Linked DNA regions of Homo sapiens. The protein of the gene in region 2 binds, or shares a complex with, the protein of the main gene of each other region. Each region holds a gene or a part of one and is shown on either strand. Other genes may lie near its edges.

What was found.
Region 1: CWC22 (region 2) and SNRPD1 share a complex: the UniProt entries of both Homo sapiens proteins name them as parts of the minor spliceosome.
Region 3: CWC22 (region 2) and TNFAIP8L2-SCNM1 share a complex: the UniProt entries of both Homo sapiens proteins name them as parts of the minor spliceosome.
Region 4: CWC22 (region 2) and BUD13 share a complex: the UniProt entries of both Homo sapiens proteins name them as parts of the minor spliceosome.
Region 5: CWC22 (region 2) and CRNKL1 share a complex: the UniProt entries of both Homo sapiens proteins name them as parts of the minor spliceosome.
Region 6: CWC22 (region 2) and ARMC7 share a complex: the UniProt entries of both Homo sapiens proteins name them as parts of the minor spliceosome.
Region 7: CWC22 (region 2) and DHX16 share a complex: the UniProt entries of both Homo sapiens proteins name them as parts of the minor spliceosome.

What each region holds. Positions count from the first base shown.
Region 1 is NC_000018.10:21,631,319-21,634,533, reverse strand, and holds the end of SNRPD1 (small nuclear ribonucleoprotein Sm D1), read right to left. Parts: 3' UTR 1,014-3,215; downstream 1-1,013. UniProt on the Homo sapiens protein: Plays a role in pre-mRNA splicing as a core component of the spliceosomal U1, U2, U4 and U5 small nuclear ribonucleoproteins (snRNPs), the building blocks of the spliceosome.
Region 2 is NC_000002.12:180,000,206-180,004,566, forward strand, and holds part of CWC22 (pre-mRNA-splicing factor CWC22 homolog), read right to left. Parts: intron 1-4,361. UniProt on the Homo sapiens protein: Required for pre-mRNA splicing as component of the spliceosome. As a component of the minor spliceosome, involved in the splicing of U12-type introns in pre-mRNAs. Promotes exon-junction complex (EJC) assembly.
Region 3 is NC_000001.11:151,159,649-151,164,009, reverse strand, and holds part of TNFAIP8L2-SCNM1 (TNFAIP8L2-SCNM1 protein), read right to left. Parts: exon of another isoform or gene 3,129-4,361; coding exon of another isoform or gene 2,990-3,128; intron 2,275-2,989; coding exon of another isoform or gene 1,910-2,274; intron 1-1,909. Other genes in the region: LYSMD1 (lysM and putative peptidoglycan-binding domain-containing protein 1), read left to right, coding at 1,910-2,274, 2,990-3,128. UniProt on the Homo sapiens protein: As a component of the minor spliceosome, involved in the splicing of U12-type introns in pre-mRNAs. Plays a role in the regulation of primary cilia length and Hedgehog signaling.
Region 4 is NC_000011.10:116,752,150-116,756,510, forward strand, and holds part of BUD13 (BUD13 homolog), read right to left. Parts: intron 1-4,361. UniProt on the Homo sapiens protein: Involved in pre-mRNA splicing as component of the activated spliceosome. As a component of the minor spliceosome, involved in the splicing of U12-type introns in pre-mRNAs.
Region 5 is NC_000020.11:20,045,430-20,049,790, reverse strand, and holds part of CRNKL1 (crooked neck-like protein 1), read left to right. Parts: intron 1-359; coding exon 360-451; intron 452-1,289; coding exon 1,290-1,448; intron 1,449-1,859; coding exon 1,860-2,026; intron 2,027-2,028; exon of another isoform or gene 2,029-2,643; intron 2,644-4,264; exon of another isoform or gene 4,265-4,304; coding exon 4,305-4,361. UniProt on the Homo sapiens protein: Involved in pre-mRNA splicing process. As a component of the minor spliceosome, involved in the splicing of U12-type introns in pre-mRNAs.
Region 6 is NC_000017.11:75,116,059-75,120,419, reverse strand, and holds part of ARMC7 (armadillo repeat-containing protein 7), read right to left. Parts: intron 1-4,361. UniProt on the Homo sapiens protein: As a component of the minor spliceosome, involved in the splicing of U12-type introns in pre-mRNAs.
Region 7 is NC_000006.12:30,662,530-30,666,890, forward strand, and holds part of DHX16 (pre-mRNA-splicing factor ATP-dependent RNA helicase DHX16), read right to left. Parts: intron 4,285-4,361; exon of another isoform or gene 3,366-4,284; intron 3,205-3,365; coding exon 2,950-3,204; intron 2,746-2,949; coding exon 2,542-2,745; intron 2,464-2,541; coding exon 2,272-2,463; intron 493-2,271; coding exon 382-492; intron 214-381; coding exon 98-213; intron 1-97. UniProt on the Homo sapiens protein: Required for pre-mRNA splicing as a component of the spliceosome. Contributes to pre-mRNA splicing after spliceosome formation and prior to the first transesterification reaction.

The DNA.
Region 1 (3,215 bases), on a different chromosome or scaffold from region 2:
TATGTATTACATATACTACTATATATGTCTCTAAACAGAAACACTCATAAAACAAGGTTATGTATTGGTTGGTTGATGAAAATGTGACTAGAGGCTTGCAGGAACTTAACCCTATATTTTCCCTAGAAGTAGTGGTTTAGTATTAACAGCAACTTTACACAACTACTGAAAATTCCAAGAATTGACTGCACTGGGTATCTACAGCCTTGCTATTATTACTATTTTCTTCATAAACTGAATCTCACTGTATATTAACATTTCTCAAAATATATGGAATACGTAAACAAAACCCTAAAACTTCACTGAGAAGAAAAGCTGGTTCAGATAGAGAACACTACTATGTTCCCACACAGAAAGAACTTAGTATTACAAAGTTTATCAGCCGGGTGTGGTGGCTCACGCCTGTAATCCCAGCACTTTGGGAGGCTGAGGCAGACGGATCACGAGGTCAGGAGATCGAGACCATCCTGGCTAACACGGTGAAACCCCGTCTCTACTAAAACTACAAAAAATTAGCCAGGCGTGGTGGTGGGTGCCTGTAGTCCCAGCTACTCGGGAGGCTGAGGCAGGAGAATGGCATGAACCCGGGAGGTGGAGCTTGCAGTGGACTGAGATTGCACCACTACACTCCAGCCTGGGTGACAGAGCAAGACTACGTCTCAAAAAAAAAAAATTTATCTTCCTTTTCAAAAGTACTCCTATTGGCTGGGCGCAGTGGCTCACACCTGTAATCTCAGCACTTTGGAAGCCTGAGGCAGGCAGATCGCTTGAGGTCTGGCATTAGAGACCAGCCTGGCCAAAATGGTGAAACCCTGTCTCTACTAAAAATACAAAGATTAGCTGGGTGTGGTGGTGCATGCCTGTAATCCCAGCTACTCGGGAGGCTGAGGCACGAGAATTGCTTGAACCCGGGACACAGAGGTTGCAGTGAGCCAAGATCGCACCACTGTACTCCAGCCTTGATGAAGGAGTGAGACTGTCTCAAAAAAAAAGAAAAGAAAAAAAAACGAAAAGAAAGTACTCCTCTTTATTTCACAGATCCACAAGAATTTCACATTAATAAAGGCCAGTATCAGATATACTTTTAATGCCTTTAGAAAATGTCTGCTGTTGGTTTATTATGACAGAGATTCTTCTTGTTATGGAGTTATTTTCTAGGTTAAGTCTTCAGGAACAAGAACTGTATGTTATTAAATGTTATATGTATGATATCTATTATAGGTAATACATGAATTGTTTGCTGACTACATTAATCTATTTCAAAATACTAAGTTATGCTCACATAATTATGATAGATTAAAAGAAACTGATATTTCATTTTCTATTCCTTCACTTTGGGTTTTCTATCTATATTCATAATACATTTCTTTAAAAACTAATGTTCGGCCGGACGCGGTGGCTCACGCCTGTAATCCCAGCACTTTGGGAGGCCGAGGCGGGCGAATCACGAGGTCAGGAGATTCAGACCATCCTGGCTAACACAGTGAAACCCCGTCTCTACTAAAAGTACAAAACATTAGCCGGGCATAGTGGTGGGCACCTGTAGTCTCAGCTACTCAGGAGGCTGAGGCAGGAGAATGGCGTGAACCCGGGAGGCAGAGTTTGCAGTGAGCCGAGATTGCACCACTGCACTCCAGCCTGGGTGACAGAGCTAGACTCTGTCTCAAAAAAAAAAAAAGAAAAGAAAAGAAAAGAAAAGAAAAGAAAAAAAACTAAAGTTCATATGTAACATCTCATTAAATATCAGATGTGTACAAAATGCTGCAGTCCTAAGATCCCATCTGCCTTTTAGGGGGTGGTGAAGAGGGGTCAAGAGAAGCATGTTAAACTCTAGTCTGTTTTCTATTCATACTATAATGCTTCCTTTATAGCAAATGATGGTAATCAGTTCAAATAGCTTTTTCTTCACCCAATTTTAGCCCTTTCACATGGAAATGAAATAATGACCTCTAGTGGAATAAACTCAATCTAGTACCCACTGTGATTTATTATTACATTTAAACTGTTACTAGACTGGCTTCACACTGCAAACATCCTAGACACAAAAACTCTCAAAACAAATTTTTTTTTTTTTTTTGAAACAGTCTCGCTCTGTCACTCAGGCTGAAGTGCAGTGGTGTGATCTCAGCTCACTGCAACCTCTGCCTCCAGGGTTCAAGTGATTCTCCTGCCTAAGCCTCCTGAGTAACTGAGATTACAGGCACCCGCCACCACACCAAGCTAATTTTTGTATTTTCAGTAGACAGGGTTTCACCATGTTACCCAGGCTGGTCTCGAACTCCTGACCTCAAGTGATTCGCCCATCTCGGCCTCCCAAAGTGCTGAGGTCACAGGCATGAGCCACCATGCCAGGACAAAACGTAATTTTAGATCTCTTATGCTAAGTGGCCATTTTCATTTAAATTTTAAATTTAAGAGCCAGGTCTCACTAGGTTACCCAGGCTGCTTGCAATCATAGCACGCTACAGCTTCAAATTCCCAGGCTATAGCGATCCTCTTGCCTTAGCCTCCCCAGTAGCAGGGACTACAAGTGTGCACCACGGCACTAAGCTCCAATTTTTATTTGTTATCTGCTTCTGTCTATAAGCTCCACGAGGACAGGAGCCAACTGTTTATTTCCTACTCTTGCAGGGTTTTGTTTGACCCCTTCAACAAATCTCTCCACTTGCTGCATTACAGGGGTCTCTTGCCTTTTGCCTTCTACTTGGATACAAGCAATAGGAGCACCAACAGGTCAGAAGATGGAAAAGAATGAAATCCAGTTATTTATTCCCCCAGCTTATTAATTAATGAAAGGTATAGGCCGGGGACGCACGGTGGCTCACGCCTGTAATCCCAGCACATTGGGAGGCCTCGTGCAGATCATGAGGTCAGGAGAACGAGACCATCCTAACACAGTGAAACCCCGTCTCTACTAAAAAGACAAAAAATTAGCTGGGTGTGGTGGCAGGCACCTGTAGTCCCAGCTACTCGGGAGGCTGAGGCAGGAGAATGGCCTGAACCCGGGAGGCAGAGCTTGCAGTGAGCCAAGATCGCGCCACTGTACTCCAGCCTGGGCAACAGAGCAAGACTGTCTCCAGAAAAAAAAAAAAAAAAAAAAAAAAAACGTGTGGAGAAAAATTACATATTGGTTGTATCTTGTCAAGCCAACTCACCTTTAATATATTTACTATTAAAGAATTGTCTTAAGTCTGGCCAACATGGTGAAACCCCGT
Region 2 (4,361 bases):
ATGTCAGCATAGAATCACAATTTCAAGAAAATAAAAGGGTCAAAATACTCCTGTCTCTTTCTAGAAAAGTCACCAGGTACAGGTTGAAAATCCTTTATCTGCAGTTCTAAAATCTGTAAAGCTCTGAAAATACAAAGATTATTCTTAAGCATGTGGCAACTCACTTGAGAGCAAAACTTAGCATATACTGACTTGATACTTAATGTGACTTGATACAGTGCAGAAATATTAATGTGTTTTGACTAGAGGATGTTACTCCAGACCCCAAAAGGGGGGATTACTTAATATGTAGTATAGGCACTGCAGTTTTCTAAAATCTACAAGATACTGAAATCAAAACACTTCTGGCTCCAAAAATTACAAATAAAGAGTTGCAGAGCTGTCCTCCCTTTTGCTTCATAGTCATTGCATATGCCAGGTGTGCTGACTCATAACCATTTGAATGACTAGATTGCCAGGTTCAAGTACAGGGCTAGAAGTTGTGCAGACAGTTCTGGACATTGTTTTCTGTAAGAAGTAAGTAATATAAAAGCATTTGACTGGTCTGCAACTCTGTGTGGAGAGTAGACAGCCCAAATTTTCAGACACTTTAAGACAGTAAGACACAGAGGAGTGAAAAAAAAAAAAGACATTTTAATGAACCCAGTGACACCATTATCTATACTGAAAACCTCACATTATAAATTGGGAGGTAGTATTACCCCCATTCATTTCCTGTATCATGAAGCTAGTCTATTTTAGGCTGTTTAAGTAACCAAATAAAGAGTTAAGTGATCCAATCATTTGGAAATACTATTAATTTTTTTACGCATAGGAAGATTCCCCAATGTGCTTCTTTTCAACAGAATGCAGGATCTATGAGAATAGAAATTTGTCTATTTTTGTTAGTTTCAACATTTCAATAAGCTGTCTCTTGATTTACAGTACAGTATTGATTTCTATTTAAGTTGGTTTTAAAGAAAAATTCTACATGTTGAACTTTTTAATGATTCATTTAAAAATAAATTATGATATTTATGGGGCAAATTCCCTTTATCCTGTCCCCTCTCTAGTTTTACTGTCTCATCCCTACACAGCTATTTTGTGATATGTAAGTTCACACTTGATGCCTCTAATTTTTTTTTCTTTTTTTTTTTTCTTGAGACAGAGTCTGACTGTCACCCAGGCTGGAGCGCAGTGGCATGATCTCAGCTCATCACAGCCTCCACCACCCAGGTTCAAGTGATTCTCATGCCTCAGCCTCCTCCTGAATAGCTGGGATTACAGGTGCGCACCACCATGCCCAGCTAATTTTGTGTATTTTTAGTAGAGATGGGGTTTCGCCATGTTGGCCAGGCTGGTCTCAAACTCCTGACCTCAAGTGATCTGCCCACCTGGGCCTCCCAAAGTGCTGGGATTCCAGGAGTGAGCCACCATGTCCAGCCTGATGTCTCTAATTCTTAACCTCTCCTACCCACTGTAATTCAGCTTTCCCTTCCCACTACTCCACAGCACTTACCAATGTTACACAGTAACTTTTTTTCTTGTTGCTAAATCCAGGGGCAGCTTCCTTCTTTTATGGGACATTGCTCTAGCATTTGGCACCTAATCCCCTTCTTGAAGTTCTCACTTGTCAACTTACAGGGACACCACCTTCATTTGTCCATCCCTTTAATATTTACTATGCCTGAGAGTTTAGTATTTGCTCATGAATTTATGTTTTGTTCATTGCTACATTCCCAACACTAGAGGCTCTCAATACATATTTGTTAAATGGATGAATGAATAGTCCTTATCTTTTCTTTCTCCATATTATCTGTGGAAGATCATCTCCATCCCCATAGCTTTAATTAACATGCGAAAACAACTTTTTACTCCAGCCAATCTTCTCTAGAGTTCCAAATCATGATGTCCAATTTGCTACAGGAAACCTCTAAGTGGATGTGCCAAAGGCCATCTGAACTAAAGAAATCCACAGTGGAACTAATTATTTCCTTCTCCCCATCTTAAACCAGCTCTTCTTCTAAGATATGACTTACAAAGCTTCCCAGGTGGCAATTTCCTTTTCCTTACTCCCTGTAAGTCACCAAATCCTACTGATTCTACCAAATCTGCCCATGTTTCCCCCTCATTCTGTCACTGTATATAGGAGGCTGGGGGAAGGTTCCATTTAGGCTAGGGCCATAATTGATATTTATATTCAGTGGCTGAGAAAAGCTGGGTGCAGTGGCATGTGCCTAGAGTCCCAGCCTGGGCAACATAGTGAGATCCCATCTCAAAACAATAGTAAAAGAAGATGAAAAAAGAAAAATGCTTACAGAGAAAATGAGGAAGTATGAAGCTAAGAGAAAAAGTACAGTCATGGTCTTTACTAAAGGCAGTGTCTATGTACGGTGGGGAGATATATACATTACACAACAGACAAGGCATTGAGGACTCTGTCCTTGGGTAAAGAAGAAATGTCTAAGTGCTACAACAATGTCATAAACAAGTGTTACTGGAAAAGAGGGTTTGGGACATACAGAAAGAAGTAGGTCTTGAAGCTGAGTCTTAAAGAACAAGTAGGAATTATCCATATCGAAAGGGGAAAAGGTCATTCAGGAAATACGATAAGCATGTGTAAAGACTCAGAGACAGAGAATTTGGGGATTCCAAGGTGTACATGAAAAACTGAACATGAATAAGATGGAACATGAGAGACTCATTAAGCTAAACTATGAAAGGCTCTGTATGAGTACACTGGATCCTCAAGGTTCTTGGTCACTGCTACATATCCAGAACCTAGGACAGTGTCTGCTACTTAATAAGTTCCAAGTCTAAAATTAAATAAAAAACGGGGAGTGTAGATTTCTGCTGATTACTCCAATTTCTGCCTACATAGAACTTCCTATAATGCCATTTTGTCAACTTGTTCATCAAGGAATACAACAGCAGCGTTGTCTCACCTATTAACTCCTACTTCTTGGAAATACTAAGATTTCCAAGTCTTAGTACATCAAGACAACACTATCAGATGCCACCCCCTATTAGTCTTCACTCCATGTTAACCTGTGGAACAGCTTGAAAACACTTCCTCATTGAGTGAGATGAAAAAAATACTAGTTCCTTTGCAGGCACTGCAAAAGGAAATCTGTCCCTGAAGGTGCAGTTCTTTTAACTTACAAAATCAACCCTAATTACTGAATATGCCATATGCCTTCATCACACATTCAAACCACTCTCTCCTGTCCCAAATCTGTTCCTCAGCTTGCCTAATTAAGTATATGGGTGAACACATTCTGCCAATTTTCAAGGCACAGCTTTGAAAGTCACCTGGTTATTTAATTAGAGAGCCACGTAGTAAACCACATTCTGGTTTAAAGAAAACTTGGAGGTGTTGGCCTCCACAGAGAAATTTAGCCCCTAGACATGCAAGCACTGCATTCTACTACAGAGGCTCCTGTAGCCAGGTCTAAAATAAAGCTATCCTGACAAACTATTTCAGGAAGGACTCACAGGGTAACTTTTCAGGTGGAAGTGCTGAACTCTGTCTAGCTCCACCCATTTATAAGTTAGGCTGAAAGACAGGTTAAACATGAGTCACCGAGTTCCTCCTCCCCACTAGCTAACCCATTCCACAGGAGTTAATATGTCCCAAGGCCAAGGCAGCCCATACCCCGTTTTTGGTATCTGTTCACTAGGAAAGACTTATTAACTTTATTATATAAAGGCTAGCTATAATCCATGCTTAAAGTTTGTACTTTGTTGTAGGTATTCAAATGTCTCTTCCAATGTCCACTTGGGAAATGTACATACTGAGAAAAAGTTTAAGTCTGGGAGTTTGCTGAAACTAGTATGCTCTCTGGCTTTATTGTTCCACCACCCTCCCATGCTCAGATAAACAGAAAAGTAGGGAAATTCGACAAGGGAGGCTTCAAAGTTATAAGAGGGATGCATGAATGTATTACCAATAGCCACTTCTTTCTCGGACTAGCTCCAGGCACCATGAACAAACCATGACCAAGTTAGGGATATGATGAGTAGTACAAAATTCCATTTAAATACAAGTGGACAATAAATTGAAAATATTATTCAAGTTAAGGCATGGGCATCTGAAATACAAAATGCATCACTGTGTTGTCTTTTGGGTGGTCTCAGGTACAAGCCACTGTAGGTCATTCAACAATGTGCAATCACTGGGAAGGAGAGTTAACTTCTTTTTTTCTTCTTCTTCTTTTTTTTTCTTGAGACAGAGGCTCACTTTATCGCCCAAGCTGGAGTGCAGTGGAGAGAGCTCAGCTCACTGCAACCTCCGCCTCCCAGGTTTAAGTGATTGTCGTGCCTCAGCCACCCGAGTAGCTGGGGCTACAAGCGCACAGCACCACACCCTGCTGATTTTTTTT
Region 3 (4,361 bases), on a different chromosome or scaffold from region 2:
AGGCGGGAGAATCGCTTGAACCCAGGAGGGGGAGGTTGCGATGAGCTGAGATCGCACCACTGCACTCCAGCACTCCAGCCTGGGCAACAGAGTGAGACACACACACACACACACACACACACACACACACAAAGATAGGAAATCAGAAAAGATTAAATTTCAGTTGGAAAGGGGCTGTGGTGGGCCAGGCGTGGTGGCTCATGCCTGTAATCCCAGCACTTTGGGAGGCTGAGGTGGGTGGATTGCTTGAGCTCGGGAGTACAGGACCATTCTGGGCAATGTGGTGAAACCCCATCTCTACAACAAATACAAAAATTAGCCGGGCATGGTGGCATGTGCCTGTAATCCCACCTACTGGGGAGGCTGAGGCAGAGGATCACTTGAGCTGGGGAAGCGGAGGTTTCAGTGAGCCGAGATCGCGCCACTACACTCCAGGCTGGGCGACAGAGTGAGACCTTGTCTCCAAAAAAAGAAAGAAAGAAAGAAAGAAAATACGAATACACTATATCTGTAGTTTCTATATTTCATTATCTAATTATGATAATAATTACATAATTATAAGTAATAGTTTTTAAATAAAGCATTAATGAGCCCCTGCTATGTGTCAAGGTCTGTAGGATGCTAATGACTTCCTGGGGATACAGAGACAGCAAGTCACAATCCTTGCCCTTAAAGGACTTATAGGGTTTAGGCAAAGCAGATATTTAAAGAGGTGAATAATATTATAGTAGGGTTATGTATTATTATAGCAATATTTACAGTATGCATTGGGAGCCCTGAAGAAGGTAGCACAAAGGGAGTGATAGTTGATGAATACAAGTTTTCCAAGCAGAGAATGGGATAGTAGGGGGGTGGGAGCATTTCAGGCAGAAGTAACAGCATGAATAAAGTGTGAAAAAGATCATGGAATGTTCAAAGAAAAATAAAAAGTTCAGGATAGCAAAATGTAGAGGTGGCAGAGGGAGATTAATCTAGACATTTCCTTTGGGAGCTGGATTGAGAAAGCCCTTGAATGCTAATTTGGTTTTTATCTTTTAGCCAGTGCGGAGCCATAGGTGGGTAGTGGGTTAATCAGATTTATTTTTTTAGAAAGATAGATGCCAAGAGGAGGATGAGTAGAAATAGAGCGAGGAAGGCCAGTTAAACTGTTGCAATAACCCCAGATGAGAAATACTGAGGGTCTATTTTAAATCTTTGGCAGTAGGAAGGTGAGACCAGATGTGAGAGAGATTTTTGAAGCAGTTTTGTTGACCACTTGGTATGGTGATGAAAGGCAAGTATTAGTTAAGGATGACATTGATGTTTCTACCTTGGGAGGCCAGGCAGATAGATGGTGATGCCAGTCACTATGTCCAGTGATGAATAAATAGGTCAAAATAAATATTTATTAATGACATTGTTAATAGTATAGTGTGAAAAGCATTCTCAGAAGCAGTGAAAAGACCCAGGATTGTCATTCTAGCTCTGTCATTAACTTGATAGATAATTTTAGGAAAGTAGCTTAACCTCTCTGAGCCTCAGTTCCTTCATTTTTATTTATTCATTAATTTATTTATTCATTTATTTTTAATTTTTTAATTTTTAGAAATGGCGTCTCACTATATTACTCAGGCTGGACTCTAATTCCCGGGCTCAAGCTATCCTCCCTCCTCAGCCTCCTGAGTAGCTGGAATTATAGGCATCAGACATTGCGCCTGGCTTGCACAATAATTTTTTAAAATGTAAGGGGGCCCTAAGACCAAAAAGTGTGAAAACCACTCATCTATAGAATAGAAATAATGTCAGCCCTTTGTACTTTAGCTTGGTTGTTATGGAATCAAAGAAGACTCTGTACAGTCACTTTAAAAAGCTCAAGATGTAAGATTGATCATTATTACTGTCCTTAATTTTGGTGACTTTTTTTTTTAAGATGGAACAGATTAAACGTGCAAACCGCCTTTATACTAATGACTCCATCTTCCTGAAGAAAACCCTCTACATCCCCATCCTGACAGAGCCCAGAGACCTGTTCAATGGTTTGGACTCTGAGGAAGAGAAAGATGGAGAGGAAAAAGTACACCCAAGTAACAGTGAAGTTTGGCCACACTCAACTGAGAGGAAGAAACAAGAGACAGGAGCAGGACGTGCCAATGGTGAAGTCCTCCCCACACCTGGCCAGGAAACCCCCACGCCCATCCATGACCTCTCTGCCTCTGATTTCCTTAAGAAGCTTGATTCACAGATCAGCCTGTCCAAGAAGGCTGCTGCTCAGAAGCTGAAAAAAGGGGAAAATGGGTGAGTCTTGAATGGTTCCTTATAAGTTCCTCCCTAGACTCCTCCATCATTCCTGTCTTACCTAACCACAAACACAAGTAAGTAAGGACAGTGCCAACAGAGGCAAGGTGATACCTTTCCCCCATGTGGCCCCAAGATAATGAGCAGAGGTGATGGCTGCTGGCCTGGGTAGAGGCAGTGGAAAACTGGGTTCTGTGTTCTTATTGGAGTCAGACAGTTAACTATTTTTTTTTTTTTTTGAGACGGGGTCTTGCTCTGTTGCCCAGGCTGGAGTGCAGTGGCGCGATCTTGGCTCACTGCAAGCTCCGCCTCCCAGGTTCACGCCATTCTCCTGCCTCAGCCTCCCGAGTAGCTGGGACTACAGGCGCCCGCCACCACGCCCGGCTAATATTTTGTATTTTTAGTAGAGGCGGGGTTTCACCATGTTAGCCAGGATGATCTCAATCTCCTGACCTCGTGATCCGCCAGCCTCGGCCTCCCAAAGTGCTGGAATTACAGGCGTGAGCCACAGCGGCCAGCTGACAGTTAACTGTTTTTACTGCTCTGATCATCCATGAAGGAGCATTAGGGTTAGGATTTATCTAGAGGGTACTGAGACTGTCTTGAAGCAACCAGCTTATGTATTAGAAGATAGCTTTCCATGTACCTCTCACTTGGCCCATTGTCAGGTTCTTCCCTTGATCTGTCACTCTTTCCCCCCTTTCCTCAATTGCAGGGTACCTGGGGAGGATGCAGGTCTCCACCTGAGCTCCCCTTGGATGCAGCAACGAGCAGTCCTAGGTCCTGTGCCGCTGACCCGTACCTCTCGGACCCGGACACTACGGGACCAGGAGGATGAAATCTTCAAACTCTGATGTCCCCAGAACTGACTGAGAGAAGCAAGATGTTGAAAGAGAAACTTCAGGGGGAGAGGAGCCTGAGGTGAGGCTCAAGAACATGGCTTATGAGCCTGCCTCCCTCCACTCCAGCCATCCTCCCCAGCCTCCTTGTCTGCCAAAAATTCCTTGGCCTGGGGCAGTTTTATTGGCAAGATTAGGGAATGGGAACTGGACCTTTCCCAGTTCTTGGGCTGAATCTAGAGTTGAGTCCTTTAGACTCAAAAGGCTCTTTTTATATCCTTGTTGCCTTTCCTATCCTTTTTACCTTTCCCTGGCCTTAGAACAGGGAAGCAGAGACTCCCCCTCAGCTTCTTCCTCATCTCCAACTATGTGACATAATTTATTTGGTGCTAATATTGAAGTAATATTTATTTGCTATATTTTATTTCTTCCCACTCTTAGCTGAAAAATGGAATTTCTATAGCCCTGGGGTGAGGAGAACCCGGGAACAGTGAGCCAGTGACTGCTGGTTCTCCACTTTCCCCACCTTGTTAGCCAAACATGTTATTGAGGATGAGGCAATCGGTGATATAGCCCACCACAGAGAATGGATGACTGTTGGCCTTTTCTCCAATCTCAAAGTGACAGATTTGGGCTGATTCTTTTTTTTTTTTTTTTTGGTACCCCATTCCTGTTGAATGGGCTCAGTCTTGACAAACCAATTCCCTGTAACTTTTTCACAATTCTTGACTCTGAGAAAAAGCAGCACTGTAGGGACCTGAACTCTCCATTCTACCAGTTCACCCTTCTGACCTGTTCTGCTCAGCCTGTGGTGAGGGGAACAGATGGAAGAAGGCTTTCCTTGGGGTTTGAAGAGGAAGCCAGTTGTGGGAGTCTCTTTGTTACACCCCCTCCCCTCCAGACCCTCTCTCTCTATGCCTTCCTCCTCACTGCATATTTATTTGCGATTTGTAGCACTGATCTATGGTACAGTTGTTTTGTTTCTTAAACAGAAGTAGGTAAGGGAACCTCAGTAATAATGGAAATCTGCCTCAGTCTCCTGTTTGGAAATGATGAGAGGTGAGATAAGTAATGTTTATATACCTCCTTTCTTCTGTGATGATTATAAGGTATACGAAGCTGGACAGATTAAACATTGAGCCCTGTGCATATTTTAGTAGTTTTATTTCCCCTATGAGAATCTCCCCTGCCCTAGCCCCTTCTTCCTGCACTCTGGAACAGAGCCTCTGGCATCTGTCCAAGCTCTGT
Region 4 (4,361 bases), on a different chromosome or scaffold from region 2:
GTTAGCCAGGATGGTCTCAATCTCCTGACCTCGTGATCTGCCCGCCTCGGCCTCCCAAAGTGCTGAGATTATAGGCATGAGCCACCGCACCCGGCCCCGTTTCTCTTTCAATTAAGAGAGGCTGGGTAATTATCTTATGGGTTTTTCCAACAGATACTATATATCTGTTCCGGAAATATTCCCTTGCAGCAGGCCGAAAAGAGACAAAACTAGAAAAGATGATGAAAGATGAATAACAAAAAGAAAGCAAGGGTGACAAAGGGAAATAAGAGAAGAAATCTAGGATAAAATCAGAACAAGAAGTGGAAAAAAGCAACTGAGAAAAATGAAGACAAATTAAATACTAGTAAAAAAAAACTAGGTCAGGGAGAATTCTAAGTTTTGGGTCCAAAAATTAAAAAACAAAAAACAAAAACTCGGTAGCAGGGAACATCTGTAGGGTTGTGCTATAAAAAGATCTACTTCTGGCTGTATGTATGGCAAATGAGTGTTCTGAAAAATCCTCCTTCTACCAAAAAGCCTACATACAGTGAACTGCAAACGGAACTAGTAAGCTAGCCTGTAACCACAGCTACCCTAAAGATATCTGCCAAGATGAGGAACTACAGTCAACTTATAGATATCTGCCAATATCAGAAAGAAGAGCCTTAAATTTTTTTATTCTGGAGTTGGGGTCTCACTATGTTGCCTAGCCTGGACTTAAACTCCTGGGTTCAAGCGATCTTCCTGCCTCAGCCTCCCAAATAGCTGGTACTACAGACACACGCCACCACACCTGGCTGTTGGATTTTGACGGCACCCCGAGGGACAGAAGACAACGCCTTAGGCCCATATAAGGTGGGGAGACAGATTCTAGACATTGCAGAGTAACCCGAACAGACTAACCTATCCTCAGTTAGCAACTATAAAACCTAGACAAAACAAAAAAAATAGGTATTTGAAGGTGTGGAAGAGTGACCAAAAGTAAGTATGAACTGGATGAAGTCTATATGTGAAAAGAGATTTGCTGGAGGGCAACTTCCCAAACAGCATGGCTCATGAAGGCAGAAAGCCACAGGCTTACTGGCTTGAGGAATTAGTGCAAAGTGGGCAGAACAGCTAGGAAATTAGGGGGGAAATCTTGGAAGAGAAGGAACTACAAAAGAGATGAACCTCAAAATCTACATACAAACCCTAGTCAAATCCTTGGCTAACTGTTAAATGACACATGTGCAGAGAAAATACCATCAGGCCAATTAAAAAAATGGCAGCTAGAAACTAAAAGAACTGAGCAAAGATTGTAGCTGCCGTCCACTGCAAAGGAGACAGTTTGGAGTTCAGCTATGTTAACTACCTGCTAGAATAAAAACTAACACACTTAAGAGGAATACAGTGTAACAGAACTCAAAGTCTCTACAGTGTATCATTCATGATGCGTAGTAACAATTTTAAAAAGTGACCAGACAGGTAAATAAACAGGAAAATGTAATACACACTGAAGAAAAAGCTGTCAATAGAAACCAATCCTGTGGTGAATCCAATGTTGCAATTAGCAGACAGGACTTCAAAGCACTAATTACATATCATAAATATTTTCAAGAAGAGGAAAATGTCTCATAATGAACAGATGGGAAATCTCAGCAGAGAAATGTAAGCTATTAAATGGAAATTTTAGAGTTGAAAAACAAAATAAACCAGCTAAAACAAAAAATCCACAATTGATAGTAACTGATAGAAAAATACAAACACAAAAAACCCAGAATACAGGCGATCTAAGATCTAAACACCTTGACCTCACTGACTTTTATAAAACACTACCTTATATAGCTACAGAATATACGTTCTCTTCAAGTGCAAAGGAAACATTCAGAAGATAGACTATCCACTGGGCCATAAAACACACCTTAACAAATTTCATTTTTATTATTGTTTTTTGATACATGGTCTCACTCTGTCATCCAGGCTGGAGTGCAGTGGTGCAATCACAGCACATTGCAGCCTCGACCTCCCTGGGCTCAGTGATCCTCCCACCTCAGCCTCCACAGTAGCTGGGACTATAGGCGTGTGCCACCATGCCCGACTAATTTTTGTATTTTTTTGTAGAGACAGGGTTTTGCCATGTTGCCCAGGCTGGTCTCAAACTCCTAGGCTCAAGCAATCCGTCTGCCTTGGGCTCCCAAAATGTTGGGATTACAGGCATGAGCCACTGTGCCTGGCCAACAAATTTCAAAAGATCAAAATATTACAGTATATTATCTGACCAAAATGGAATTAAATTATAAGTAAATAGCAGTAAGATATCTAGAAAAGTCCAAATATTTGGAATTAATGCACTCCTAAATAACCCATGGAGCAAAGAATAAACCAAAAGGATAATTAGAAAATATTTTGAACAAAATCCAACATACATTCCTGAAAACAAAACTCTCAGCAAAACAGGAATAGAAGGGAACTTTAACTCCATAAAGGATATCTACAAAAAACCTATACAGCTACAACACATTTAATAAATGTGTTGTAAAAACTAAATGTTTTCTTCCTGAGATTAGGAACAAAGCAAAGATGTCTGCTCTCACTACTTCTATTCAACATCTGCACTGAAGTGCTAGCTAATGCAACAGGGCAAGGAAAAGAAACAAAAAGCATCTAGATTGTAAAGTAAGAAATTAAACTGTATGCAAAGATGGAAGACCCTCTAGGTACAAAATCTGATGGAATCTATAAAAAGCTATTGTACAAAGTGAGCTTTACCTGAAGGAAAACAACTGACAATACAGTGTAACAGAACTCAAAGTCTCTACAGTATATCATTCATGATGTCCAGTAACAATTTAAAAAAGTGACCAGACAGGTAAATAAACAGGAAAATGTAATACACACTGAAGAAAAAGCTGCCAATATAGAAACCAATCCTGTGGTGAATCCAATGTTGCAATTAACAGACAGGAAGGACTTCAAAGCACCAATTACATATCACAAATATTTTCAAGAAGAGGAAAATATCTCATAATGAACAGATGGGAAATCTCAGCAGAGAAATTAAGCTATTAAATGGAAATAGCTCAAGCAATGGAAATGCCAGTGATAACATTTAAACTTTCAAGTGTAAATTAGAATTCTGAAAAACTGTGAACTCTTTAACTTCCCATTATTTAAAGAGTTTTGTGATAAGACCGGAAGTGATGTTAACAAAAGTGATTTTCTGATATTGTATAGTGGAAATATGTCAACATTTGGAAGGTCTGAACAACTCAGCAAACCAATATTTTACAAATGACCAATGCATGATGTTATAAAATCATGCATGGGTAAAAGATCCACTCAAAGTATTAAAAAAATTAATATAACAGTAAGGAAAGTTCTTTGATCTGGTTTCAGGTTCCACATAGCTCACCTTTAAGAAACCAGCACTTGTTGAGTTTTTGTGTAACATTAAGAAATATAATATGCCTTCTCTTTCTAACTACCTATGTGTGAGGCTAAATTTTCTTTCTATACTTCAACTGAACAAATCACAACAGACAAATACAGAGTCAAGTTACCTATTATTAAGTCAGACATTAATGAGATTTGCAAAAATGTAAATCAATGCCATCCTTCTGTTTTTTCACTTGGAAAATGTAATTATTTTTCATTTAAATATACAGTAATTATGTTAACATAATTAGTTTATTTTTTTTTGAATGAATAAATACTTTTTAAATGTCTGAGTTTTAATTTATAATATGGTAAATATCAATATATATAATCCACATCAACAAAAGCTTTTTGAGGTCATCAGTAATTTTTAAGAGCGTAGGCCAGGCACGGTGGCTCAAGCGTGTAATCCCAGCACTTTGGGAAATCGAGGCAGACAATCATATGAGCCCAAGAATTCAAGACCAGCCTGGTCAATGTGGCAAAACCTCGTCTCTACTAAAAATGCAAAAATTAGCTGGATATGGTGACACATGCCTGTAATCCCAGCTACTCAGGCCACTGAAGCATGAGAATTGCTTGAACCCGGGAAGTGGAGATTGCACCACTGCACTCCAGCCTGAGCAACAGAGCAAGACTCTGCCTCAAAAAAAAATAAGAGTGGTTGGGCATGGTGGCTCACCTGTAATCCTGTAATCCTGTAAGCCTGTAATACCAGCACTTTGGGAGGCTGAAGTGGGCGGGTCACCTGAGGTCAGGAGTTTGAGACCAGCCTGGCAACATGGTGAAACTCCGTCTCTATTAAAGATACAAAAAATTAGCTGGGTGTGGCAGCGGGCGCCGGTAATCCCAGCTACTCGGGAGGCTAGGGCAGGAGAATCGCTTGAACCCAGGAGGCAGAGGTTGCAGTGAGCCGAGACTGCGCCACTGCACTCCAGCCTGGGCGACAGGGCGAGGCTCCATCT
Region 5 (4,361 bases), on a different chromosome or scaffold from region 2:
TCTGCAAAAGGACCATGAGAAGACTTTGGGATCTGATTTGACCTCTTCACTCTAGAATGTGGGACTGTTTTAAAGCACTAATGCTGTTATATATGAAATTCTGAGAATTACCAGAGGACTTAAAGGTAATAGTCAAAAACATTTTTTATTAGGGACAAGCATAGACCATTTTAAAGTATCAGTTAGTTGACTGTAACCTTCTGTAGTGGGTTTCTTATTCCTCAAGGATTCCAGGATGTAATTTCTCTTAAATATGAACAAAATGAATAACCATTTTAGTACAAGACTTAAAATAGACCAAGGGTGCTGTCATTTTTAGTCATTTGTCTTTTGACTTGACCCTTTTTGCCTTCTTCCAGACTTTTGAAGATAATATAAGAAAAAACAGGACTGTGATTAGTAACTGGATAAAATACGCACAATGGGAAGAAAGCCTAAAGGAGATTCAAAGGTAAAATTACTGAGAGTGTAGTTTTGTATATAATGATTCATAGATTAACAGATACCAAAAAGAAAAGAAGAAAAAGTTAAAGCACAGGTAAAAGATTGTGCCTCGGGTAGAAATTTTCAACTTTGGTTCCATGGAACCCTAGGGTTCCCTTGAGGGCCTCAGGAGTACTGGGGTAGAATAGTCCTGGGGAGGGTGGCAGAAGAGGCTTTAGAGATAGATCTTGTCAGTTGTAGCTAAAGAAGCACAATTTCATTTGCTTTGTATATATTGAGATTTTTACAAATTTCAGCTAAACAATGGCCAAAAAAAATAAAACCAATGGCCAAAAAAAATAAAAATTGCAATCTGGCCCTTCCTGTGGTCTAGCTTTCTGCATTCTCCCCGCATACCTCCTTCCCCCACTGTGCCTGTGTATGTGCCACTCCCTGAATATATCATGTCTCCTTATCGTGAGGCTTGACTGTTCTCCTTGCCTGGAATGAGCACCCCCTCCTCACCAAACTTAGTTTCCTGGTAAATCGGAACGTTCCTCAAGTTCTCATTTCTACAATTACCTACTACTTAGCCTTTTCCACCAAACATTTTCATTTCTTCCTCTCTGTTTCCCGTGCAGATCTTGACTATAACATAAATCACATTGCATTATAATTGCATGCATGTCTTTTTATAAGACTTTGTAAGGTACTTGAGAGCATTATATCTTTTCATTTTTTTATGCCCAGAACTTGGCTCATGGTAGACACCTAATAAAACATCAGTGCATTCCAGATAGTTTGAAATAACTGCTACATGTGTTGAATGCTCTATTTTTGATGCCCTGCAAATCTTGCTTCTTAAGGGCTCGATCCATATACGAGCGTGCTTTAGATGTAGACTACCGAAATATTACACTCTGGCTGAAATACGCAGAAATGGAAATGAAGAATCGCCAAGTCAACCATGCTCGAAATATCTGGGACCGGGCCATAACAACGCTGCCTCGAGTTAATCAGTTCTGGTAAGTTTCTGATCTAACAAAACAGCCTTTTATAGACTAGCAAAGTTCCACATCTTCTGTATTTATTTTATTTACATGATGATAGTTTAATTTGATATCCTACTTTTTCTTCAGACATAAATGCTGTTATGTCCCATAGTCTATTAAGTCATAATCGTAATGTTCTATAGCTATGTAATCAAAACTAAAATTTTGATTGCAATCTTTTATTCATAAGCTTCTTGTTGAACTAGGCAACTTTTAAGAAAAAAAAATCTTTTTTTCCAATGGTTCATCCTTTTTCAGATTTACATACAAATGACAAAACATGTTTGATTTAACCTTTAAGAAAGGTAAAATCTTCAATCTTCTTCCCATTCAACAATGGAAGAACTAAACCACAGCAGATATTTTCGGGTGATTTTGTTACAGGTACAAGTACACGTACATGGAGGAAATGTTGGGAAACGTTGCCGGTGCCCGGCAGGTGTTTGAGCGCTGGATGGAGTGGCAGCCTGAGGAGCAAGCCTGGCACTCCTACATCAACTTTGAGCTGAGATACAAAGAGGTGGATCGGGCCCGCACCATTTATGAGCGATATATCCTTTGGACGAGATCTGTATGGTGCCATGATTGTCCTGGATGCTGCTGCTGCTCCTGTAGAGATGTCTCATGATCAGGACACACAGTCATTAATGTCAGGCTCAAAGTCAAGAATGCCAGTTTATCAGCTTCCCTATGTTTTGTAGGGAAAGAGATTGGTCAGAATGAAAATTTGTATTCTGGGTAACTAGTCTTTTCTAGTGAGAGTTTGGGTTTATTTTATTGTAATGCTAAAAGCTAATGTTTCCTTGTGGAAAATGATATTCCTGGGGGATTGTTTCCAGGAACTCAAGGGGATACCAAAATCGGTGATGCTTAAGTCCCTCATATAAAATGATGTAGTATTTGCATGTAACCTATGCATAGCCTCCCATATAATTCAAATAATCTCTAGATTACTTATACCTAATGCAATGTAAATGTTATATAAATAATTGTTATTCTGTATATTTTAAGGAATAATAAGCAAAAAAACGACATGTTCAATACAGAAGCACTTTTTTCTCACGAATACTTTATCTCAGGTTGGTTGAATCCACAGATATGGAACCCATGGCTGGAGGACTAACTGTACTAAGGTCCTGGCTGCCATTGCCAGTCCTGTTTTTCTAAGGTTTGTGTTGGTCATTACTACCTTACTGGAGTTCATCCAAGGTTTACTGTTTACTAGCTGTGTGGCTCCAGAGAGTCATTTAACTCCTTTGAGAGTTGGTGTCCTCTTCTTAAAAACAAGAATAAAAACACCTTTGTTGGGCTGTTGCGAAGATTAAATGATACACATGAAAGCACTTTTAGAAACTGAAGTACAGTCATTCCTCACTATTTGCAGATTCCATGTTTGCAAAATCACGTATTTGCTAAAATTTATTTGTAACCCCCAAAATCAGTAATTGTGGCACTTTCACAGTCATTTGTGGACATGCACAGAGCATGAAGTCCAACAAGGTGAGGCTTGCCTTCTGGTCTTAACCTCATATAACCATGCCTAGAGCTTGGAGACAGGAAGGGCCAGTGCCATGTAGTGCAAGGAGCTGTGGCTCTGGGGCCAGTCGGGGAGTTTGAATCCCTGTCAGTGGGGCAGCCTCAGTCCAGTCACTTAACATTTCTGAACCACTTTTCTTACAAAATAATGAAGATAGAATCTGCCAGGATGAGTTCTTTTTAGGATTTAAGATGATGATGAATGTGAGATTGTATATATACACGTTTCTCCTAGGAGCAGTGGTTCAGTACTCAATAATTAAGTGTTCGCATTGACTAAATAGAACATAACTACCAGAAATAATGAGAGTCAACTTTATTATGCAGTATTAAGATCTTTTTATTTTTTTACTCTTCTCTGTTGAGGTGACAATGTTAAGATCTTAATTATGTCTACTAATTTTAATATTATTAGTTTGACGAAAGCTTTTATAGCACTTGCTACGTGCCAGGCAGTATTCTAAGTACTTTACAGATATTGTTGTTTAATCCTCATAACATCCTTGCAGTGTAGGAACTTCTCTGTCCTACAGATGAGGGAGCTGAGGCATGAGAGATTAAGTAGCTTGACTGGGTTCTCACAGGTGCTGATGGAAATAGAATGTGAACCTAGTAGAGCAGCTTCAGAACTGATGCTCTTCTTTGCCATATTGGAATATATTACTACTTTGGAAATTAATGATTTATTCAAGGAAGATAGATTAAAATGACAATTCAAAACTTTCTGCTTTGACTCTAGTTAACAGTTTTCTTTTTATAGCATGTTTTTTTCTTAATTATTAGTTCAAGTATTCATATTTTAATATAATTGGTGCTATTTAATGACCAGACCATTATTGACCGCTTACGGTGCCATGTTCTTTTGGCTAGAAACTGTGCTAAGGGCTTTACATACATTTTCTCATTTAAAGCTGGCAGTAATCCAGTGAGGCTGGCATTATTTTTCCCTGTTTACAAATGAAACAGCTGAGACTTAGACGTCTAAGTTCAGTGACTTATCCAAGATCACATGGTTGGTAACCTGGGTTGAGATTTTTCTTTGCTTCCAACTCGAGTTTATACCCACCACTAAAATCTTAACTAAGCACTGGAGGAAAATAGAGATGAACAGGCGTGGCCCTGCTCTCACAGAAGCCACTGTTTAATTCTACACTTTTGTATGTGTTTTGTTCCCCTAGAGTTGTAGTTTGAATTTTTGGAGTTTCCAGGCTTTGGTATGGTTTTGGTGTTTACTTACTTACTATTTTTTTAAGCCATGCTGTTTTGCCTGGGATTTCCTTAATTCCCTTGCACTTGTCCTCGTGCACCCTGATGTTAAGAACTGGATCAAGTATGCCCGCTTTGAAGAAA
Region 6 (4,361 bases), on a different chromosome or scaffold from region 2:
TTCCAGACATCAGGACACACAGGAACTCTACACGAGAACCCTGGAGAGGCAAAAGAGGAAACCCCACATGAAAGCAAGATGAGAAAGCCGGAGACTCAGGGAGGTCAGGTGGGTGACCTCAGCTCACACGCCATGTTGGGCACTGGTGCAGGGAGGGACAACCTGGACCATGAAGGGAAGGTTGAAGGATGGTCCCAGGGATTAAATGAGGTGATGCTGGCCGGGCGTGGGGGCTCATGCCTGTAATCCCAGCACTTTGGGAGGCCGAGGGTGGATCACCTGAGGTCAGGAGTTCAAGACCACCCTGGCCAACATGGCAAAACTCCATCTCTACTAAAAATACAAAAATTAGCTGGGCATGGTGGCACTCACCTGTAGTCCCAGCTACTTGGGAGGCTGAGGCAGGAGAATGGCTTGAACTTGGGAGGCGGAGGTTGCAATGAGCCCAGATCATGCCACTGCACTCCAGCCTGGTCAACAGGGCGAGACTCCATCTCAAAAACAAAACAAAACGAGGTGATGCTTCTGACAAGTGCTTAGCTGGCACCTGGCACCTGGTGGCTGGGCAGGCCCTCGGCAAGGGCAGCTCAAAATACAGCTACATCTGGGGACTCGCCCATGCTGAGCTGAAGCAGCCCAGGGTCAAAGTCTTCACAGCAGGCTGGGCGTGGTGGCTCACGCCTGTAATCCTAGCACTTTGAGAGGGCCGAGGCAGGCGGATCACAAGGTCAGGAAATCGAGACCATCCTGGCTAACACGGTGAAACCCTGTCTCTACTAAAAAAAAAAAAAAATACAAAAAAAATTAGCTGGGCGTGGTAGCGGGTGCCTGTAGTCCCAGCTGCTGGGAAGGCTGAGGCAGGAGAATGGCGTGAACCCGGGAGGCGGAGCTTGCAGTGAGTCGAGATCGCGCCACTGCACTCCAGCCTGGGCGACAGAGCGAAACTCCGTCTCAAAAAAAAAAAAAGAAAAAACTGTATCACAGGGTATTTTCAGAAGTCTCACCACCATTCTGGTCCCTTCTACCTTGTTCCCTGCCTCGTACTAACCCATTTCCTTATTACACTTTTGTGTCTTGCCAGCGTGAGTGCATACACAGAGGTGTGTTCATCTCCACCCTGCCTTCTCACACAAAGGGTAGCTTACTCTATGTACTGTCTGTCCTTCAGACTTGAAATTGAAGGAGCCATTTTCAAGACACTGAAGGAAAACCCAAGAACAAATAATCCCCTGTGAATAGTCCAGTGTACCAGTCCAGTGTACCAGTGTACCAGTGTACAGTCCAGTGTACCAGTGTCATAGAGGAACTGCCACTGGGGCTGGGTGCAGTGGCTCATGCCTGTAATCCTAGCACTTTGGGAGGCTGGGGTCGGAGGATCACTTGAGCCCAGGAGTTTGAGGCCAGAACAAGGGACTAGAGTCTGAGCCTGGTGCCAGCTGGGTTCCCAGGGCACAGAATTTGGATCCTGGATGACAGGGGCGAAGTCCTGGCTCCAGTTATCACTAACAGCGGGAGCCCCAGGCAGTGGACTTGCCCTCACTTGGTGGTGGGGGTTCCCGATATGTACAAAGGGGTTAGAACCATCGGCCTTGCCGTTCATGACCGATTCAGAGGCCTTGTGGACAGGCTGGTTCAGGTGGGCGTGTGGCGAGCACATGGTGTGCACTGGGCGGGCATCCAGGAGAGGCAGCTTTTATCCCAACAGCACCCAAACAGGAGCCCTGGACCCTGGGCAGAAAAGGCAGCCAGAAGCACAGAAAGGGTCAATAAACTAGTTCTACAATTGCTCTAAATGGGCAGATCCACAAGAGGCCACAAAAGAGGCCAGAGACTTGAAAACCCGTGCGTGTTCTCCGCGGTCGCTGTAGCCGGATCCTTCCTCATGGCTGTGGCGGTGCCGACGGCGGGCAACTGAGAGGAAGCCACAGGAGAAAGAGACCGCCACACAGAGACGACGGTGAGTGAGGCCAGGCCCCTGTTGGCAAGTGGTTGCTGCCACTGTAGTTCCACTGCCACCGCTGATGGGAACACTTGAGGCCAGACTGAAGCCCTGGCTGACATGGAGAGAGAGCAGGGGCTTCTCTAGGGGCCTGCAGGCCCCCAAGCATGGAAATAAAGGAAAATCTTGAGTCCCTTCATGAAATTCCAGGCACCTAGCTAGCCCTGAGAAGCAAGTGAGCAACTCGATAAGCAAGAAGGTAATAGTTAGCTTAAAACAATAGCCAAGGAAGTCAGAATCAGGGGATGTCTGGTTTCCCCATAGAAACTAAAGATAACTTTGTTTTTTTTTTTTTTTTGAGACAGTCTTGCTTTGTCGCCCATGCTGGAGTGCAGTGGCACGATCTTGGCTCACTGTAACCTCTGCCTGCCTCCTGGGTTCAAGCGATTCTCCTGCCTCAGCTTCCAGAGTAGCTGGGATTACAGGCTCCTGCCACCACACCCAGCTAGATTTTGTATTTTTAGTAGAGACGGGGTTTCACCATGTTGGCCAGGCTGGTCTTGAACTCCTGAGCTCAAGTGATCCACCCGCCTCAGCCTCCCAAAGTGCTGGGATTACAGGTGTGAGCCACCACACCCGGCCTAAAGATAACATCTTAATATCTGTCCTTGAGTTGCTTTTCAGAAATCTGGACCCTCAACAAACAATTCCCCTGGCACTGAGACCTCAGATAAGGGGAACTGAAAACTACACTCTGACCACTCTTTAGACTCCCTGAGGGGCCTGGAGGACATGCCCACAGGTTATAGCTAACATTCTTTTTTGCTGATGCCAAATTTGTAGACAAAGCTTCACCTCCTTAACCACTCACAAATCAGAAAATCTTTGAAGCCACCTATGATCTGTGCCCCATCCCTTGGAGACATCCTGCCTTCTTAGGCCAAACCAATATATAGCCTCCTGGTGTTGATTTAAAACTTTGTCTGTAACCTCTGCCTCCTGCCTTTGAACACCCTTAACCATAAGCCATCTGGGAATTTGGGTCTTAAGCATGAGCTGCCGGATTCTTCTTGCTTGTCGCCCCACAATAAAGGCCTCACTTTTGGCTGGGCACAGTGGCTCACGCCTGTAATCCCAGCACTTTGGGAGGCCGAGGCGGGCGGATCACCTGAGGTGAGGAGTTCGAGATCAGCCTGGCCAACATGTCGAAACCCCGTCTCTACTAAACATACAAAAATTAGCTGGGTGTGGTGGCGGGTGCTTGTAATCCCAGCTACTCAGGAGGCTGAGGCAGGAGAATTGCTTGAACCAGGTAGGCGGAGGTTGCAGTGAGACGAGATTGCACCATTGCACTCCAACCTGGGCAACGGAGTGAGAATCTGTCTCAAAAAAACCAAAACCAAAAACAAAAACAAAGCCTCACTTTCTCACTGCGATTTTTGTCAGTAATTGGCCTTAGTGTGCAGGGTGAGCGAATCCATTTGTTTGGATAGCATCCAGCTTCCAGCCCTCAGAGAGGAGGCAGAAGTGCTGGGCCAAAGAGCAGACCTCACTCAGAGCTGCCACAGCAAAGCCAGCATGGAAGGGTACCTGTGAGTGTGGTGGCTGCAGGGACAGACGGAAGGAAGCCTGCATTCTCATCCTGGCCTGCGACAGCCAGACGAGGGGCAGCTGTCTGCACCGCAGCTTCCTTATTGATAAAATGAGCAATTTGGAGTAAACTCCTTTCTCGCTTTCGCTCCACAATCCTAGGAATTGGAACTCCTCTAAGGGCAGGAAAAGGGCCAAGGGACTAGCTTGTAGACTCTGACTGCTCTGGGTTTAAGTCTCAGGTCTGGTACTCTTTATTTATTTTGAGACGGAGTTTCACTCTTGTTGCCCAGGCTGGAGTGCAATGGCGTGATCTTGGCTCACCTCAACCTCCACCTCCTCGGTTCAAGCGATTCTCCTGCCTCAGCCTCCTGAGTAGCTGGGATTACAGGCGCGTGCCACCGCACCCAGCTAATTGTATTTTTAGTAGAGATGGGGTTTCTCCATGTTGGTCAGGCTGGTCTCGAACTCCCGACCTCCGGTGATCTGCCCACTTCGGCCTCCCAAAGTGCTGGGATTACAAGCGTCAGCCACCATGCCCGGCCTAGGTCTGGTACTCTTTAAACCTTTGGCCAGCCCACAGAACCTCTCTAAGCCTCAGAGTCCTGATTGGAAAGAAGGCGGTGTAAGCACATCTACTTTAGTACTATGTCCAATGCACAAGATGCAAGCGCCTGGCATGCAGTGGGTGCTCCCCAAGTGTGAGCTAATGCCATCCGTGATGGGGGCACAACAGCACCGGGCCTGCAGCCAGGCTCTCCCCACCTGACATTGCCTGGGCACCCTCTGGGAGGCTGAGGATCGGTGTTCCTGTCATTCCGTGATGTTTTTC
Region 7 (4,361 bases), on a different chromosome or scaffold from region 2:
AACCACAAAGATTCAAGAACGGGTGGATTAATCAGAAGACAATGGCTGAATTGGCTGGGTGGGAAGAAGGGAGAGAAAGGCCAGAGATTAGAGATACCTGTAACTCGCCAGGTCAGGCTCAGAGAGGAACTCCCGGAGAAGCATCCCATCTGTCATGTAGCGGAGGACAGTTCGCTCTGATGTGCAGTCCTCAAAGCGGATGCTGTAGCCAACCTGGTCAAGGGAACCATTAGCAACCAAGTGTGGGCTGGTGTGCCCTGAAAGGAACTTGGGGAAAGGTGAAGTGGGGCAGCACCAAGACTTCTGCTGTAGGGACCTGAGGGAACTGTAGACTGAGTCACAGACCCCAGACTCTACCCCCCGGTTCCCTAGAAATCTCACCTCATTCCCAAGCTTCACACCCATCTCCCGGGCCACTCGGGCGGCCACACTCATGGCAGCCACTCTCCGGGGTTGGGTGCAGGCAATCTTCATACCCTTGTTTGTATAACCCTGAATGACAAAGAAAAAAGAAGAAGTTTGCCCTTTACTAAATATGCACCCTGGGACCAGGTACATTTCAGAGAAAGAAGTTGTAAAAACCAGGCAGGAGAAAAGGAGGAAAAGACAGATGCTGAAAACCAGAAAAGAAGGGCAAATAGATAGGATGACAGACCTAGGGCCCTCAAAGGGGGTCCTCACCCAGCTCTGGGTAATTAAGTTCATGACTCTGCTAGACTTGAGCTGGAAAAGAACAGATTAGCTGAGACAGAGCCAGCTAAGGTAAAAAAGCAGGAAGGCTGGGCACAGTGGCTCATGCCTGTAATCCTAGTACTTTGGGAGGCTGAGGTGGGAGGATGGCTTGAGCTCAGGAGTTCGAGACCAGCCTGGGCAACATAGTGTGACAAAAAAATTAAAAATTCAAAATTTTGACCAGGCACAGTGGCTCACACCTGCAATTCCAGCACTTTGGGAGGCCGAGGCAGACGGATCTCCTGAGGTTGGGAGTTCGAGACCAGCCTGGCCAAAATGGTGAAACCCCGTCTACTAAAAATACAAAAAATTAGCCGAGCATGGTGGTGCATGCCTGTATTTCCAGCTACTTGGGAGGCTGAGGCAGGAGAGTCGCTTGAACCTGGGAGACAGAGGTTGCAGTAAGCCAAGATCATGCCACCGCACTCCAGCCTGGGCAACAGAGCAAGACTCTGTCTCAAAAAAAAAAAAAAAAAAATTTCAGGCCAGGCACAGTGGCTAACACCTGTAACTCCAGCACTTTGGGAGGCTGAGGTGGGCAGATCACGAGGTCAGGAGATTGAGACCATCCTGGCCAACATGGTGAAACCCCATCTCTACTAAAAATACAAAAATTAGCTGGGTGTGGTGGTACGCACCTGTAGTCCCAGCTACTTAGGAGGCTGAGGCAGGAGAATCACTTGAACCCAGGAGGTGGAGGTTGCAGTGAGTCAAGATCGCGCCACTGCACTCCAGCCTGGTGACAGAGCAAGACTCCACCTCAAAAAAAAACAAAAAATGTTTAATATGGGCATGGTGGTGTGCACCTCCCAGATACTCAGGAGGCTGAGGTGGGATGATCTCTTGAGCCCAGGAGTCCCAGGTTGCAGTGAGTCATGATGGTGCCACATCACTCCAGCTTGGGCATCAGAGCAAGAGCCTGTCTCCAAAATAAGGCAGGGGCTAGGCACAGTGGCTCACACCTGTAATCCCAGCACTTTGGGAGGCTGAGGTGGCTGGATCACTTGAGGTCAGGAGTTCGAGAGCAGCCTGGCCAACATGGTGAAACCCCATCTCTACTAAAAAATTAGCCAGGTGTGGTGGCGCATGCCTGTAATTCCAGCTACTCTGAAGGCTGACGCAGGAGAATTCCTTGAACCCAGGAGTCAGAGGTTGCAGTAAGCCAAGATCGCACCACTGCACTCCAGCCTGGGTGACAGAGCAAGACTCCGTCTCCAAAAAAAAAAAAAAAAAACTAACAAAAAGGCAGGAAAATAGTCCTTTAACTCCTTGTTTTTTGGCCACGTTGGAGCATAGGGAGGTCCACATTTATACACGCCCCACTCCACCTATCCATCTACCCGTCCTTCCAAATGAAATGAATGCAGGAAGTGAGAACAGAAATGTGAAAAGGGTATGGTCTTTACTCTCAAGAATTTCACAATTTAGTGGAAAAGATAGGTAAGTGACTACTAAAAATATAATGTAAAAGGAGCTCTGACAGGAATGAGGACATTGATGCCAGGTGCCCTGGCAAGCTGAAGGGTGAGATGACTGTACCTCCTCAAAGAGATACTGCGGGATCTGGGTGGTCTTCCCTGAGCCTGTCTCGCCTTCAATGATGAGGACTTGGTGATTTGCAATAGCAGCCAGGAGCTCCTCTCGAAATGGGAACACCGGGAGGCTGCGGCGGACGGCCTGGATGGACTCTTTCTGCTGGGCCTGAGTTGAAGTGGGTGGAGCTGACGGCTCCTAAGGAAAGAGAAGGAGGTGTGAGCTAAATAGCTCGCTACGGGTCTTCCTCAGAAAGTCTCCCAGCTCCCCTCTTACCTCATCACCCTGGAGCTGAGTGGCCCGGACAAACTCAATGGTCTCCTCCTCCTCCAGCACCAGTTGATACTTGGGCTCCTGAGAGGCAGCATCTCGGGCCCCAAACTTCAGGGACGCTGCCCCAAGCCGCGCCTCCTCCCAGCGCCGCTGCTCCTCCCCAGGGGCTCCTGATTCCTCCTCCACTAGATCCACAGCTCGGGCTGGCTACAGAGAGAGGGGATATGTGAAGACTCAAAAACAGGATGTCCTCTCTGCCCTCTCCCCTCTTCCCATTACTACCCCCGCCCACTGCCCATTGGGAACGGCAAGGCAAGAAAGGGGATGACCCACGTGTTGCCCAATCCCCTGAAGCCTTCCCCACAACTTGTCTTGGGGACCAAGGCTGAAGCAGACGCCGCTTCACCTCACCTGTCCTCGGGTTTCCTTGGGCATGTGGTAGCGATTGGTGGCCTCCAGCTTCTCCTGCTCCCCAGCTGCCCGGTACTCCCGGGCGAGATCCCGCACTCGCCGCTTATATTTGAGCTCCTGCCGCTCGTGCCGGCTCAGCTCCACGTCCCCAAAAAGGAACTCCTCATCAGCCAGCTCCGCCTCCAGGTCCTCAAGCTTCTCTCGCTCCCGCTTAGCCAGGTACTCTCGGCGAGATTTCTTCCGCAGCTCAGGGACCTGAGTTGGGAAAGGACAGTCGAATCCTCATCTTGCTGGAGGAGCAACCCCTTTCTCTACCAATCCCTACAAGGGAAAAATCCCCTGACAGGCAGGCATGAGAACCTCAGGATGCACCCTCTACCTTCCCTCTGCAATGCACAACCAAAACAATGACATACTCAAATCTGGGCCTCTTTGGATGCTACATGCTGACCCCACATCGTATCTTCCTGCAGCAGAATCCAGCTGGAAAGTCCTCTTAGGCAGCATTATCATCTTTGTTAATATAGATGCACTAGGGAGATGTCTGCGTAGCTTATATTTTACTCTTGCCATTTTATTCAAATTAGTGGAAAGGGGGAAAATAAAAGGCTAATCCAGCATTTAGAAGCACAGGACTCAAACCGAAAACAATTCAGACAAAGATAGAAACCAGTGAGGGGGCCAACAGGAGGCAATCTTCAGCCCCAGTTAGATGTTCTTTGGTCTTAAACGGAATGACTGTAGTTTGAGGAAGGGAGAAAAACTGATTATAAAAAGTTAGGACTACAGCATCAGAGTGTTTCTGTAAGGCAAATGTAATCAGGGATGTTTGGCTTTCTGGTACTAACCTCTCTTCACCATGCTGTGTCTCACTTAGTTTCTACACATTTACCTTTGATACAAACTTTTCAGGACACATTATGGATGACAGCAGAAAACTGGCAATATCTATAAGGCCCTTTCCTGCCAGGAGTCCTCCCACTATGACATCATCCTCTCTGTGATCACAACTTCCTCTACTGCAAGGTCAAAGCCCCTCTGGTGGCTGGGTGGGCGTGGTGACTCACACCTGTAATCCCAGCACTTTGAAAGGCTGAGGTGGGTGGATCACCTAAGGTCAGGAGTTAGAGACCAGCCTGGCCAACATGGTGAAATCCCGTCTCTACTGAAAATACAAAAATTAGCTGGGCATGGTAGTGGGCACCTGTAATCCCAGCTACTCGGGAGGCTGAGGCAGGAGAATCATTTGAACCCGGGAGACGGAGGTTGCAGTGAGCTTAGCTCACGCCATTGCACTCCAGCCTGAGCAACAAGAACAAAACTGCATCTTTAAAAAAAAAGCCCCTCTGCTGTTCTACCCTTAAGGGGCCTGGTTCTATTTAGTTGTTTGGCTTTTCTTGTTTGTTCTGTAA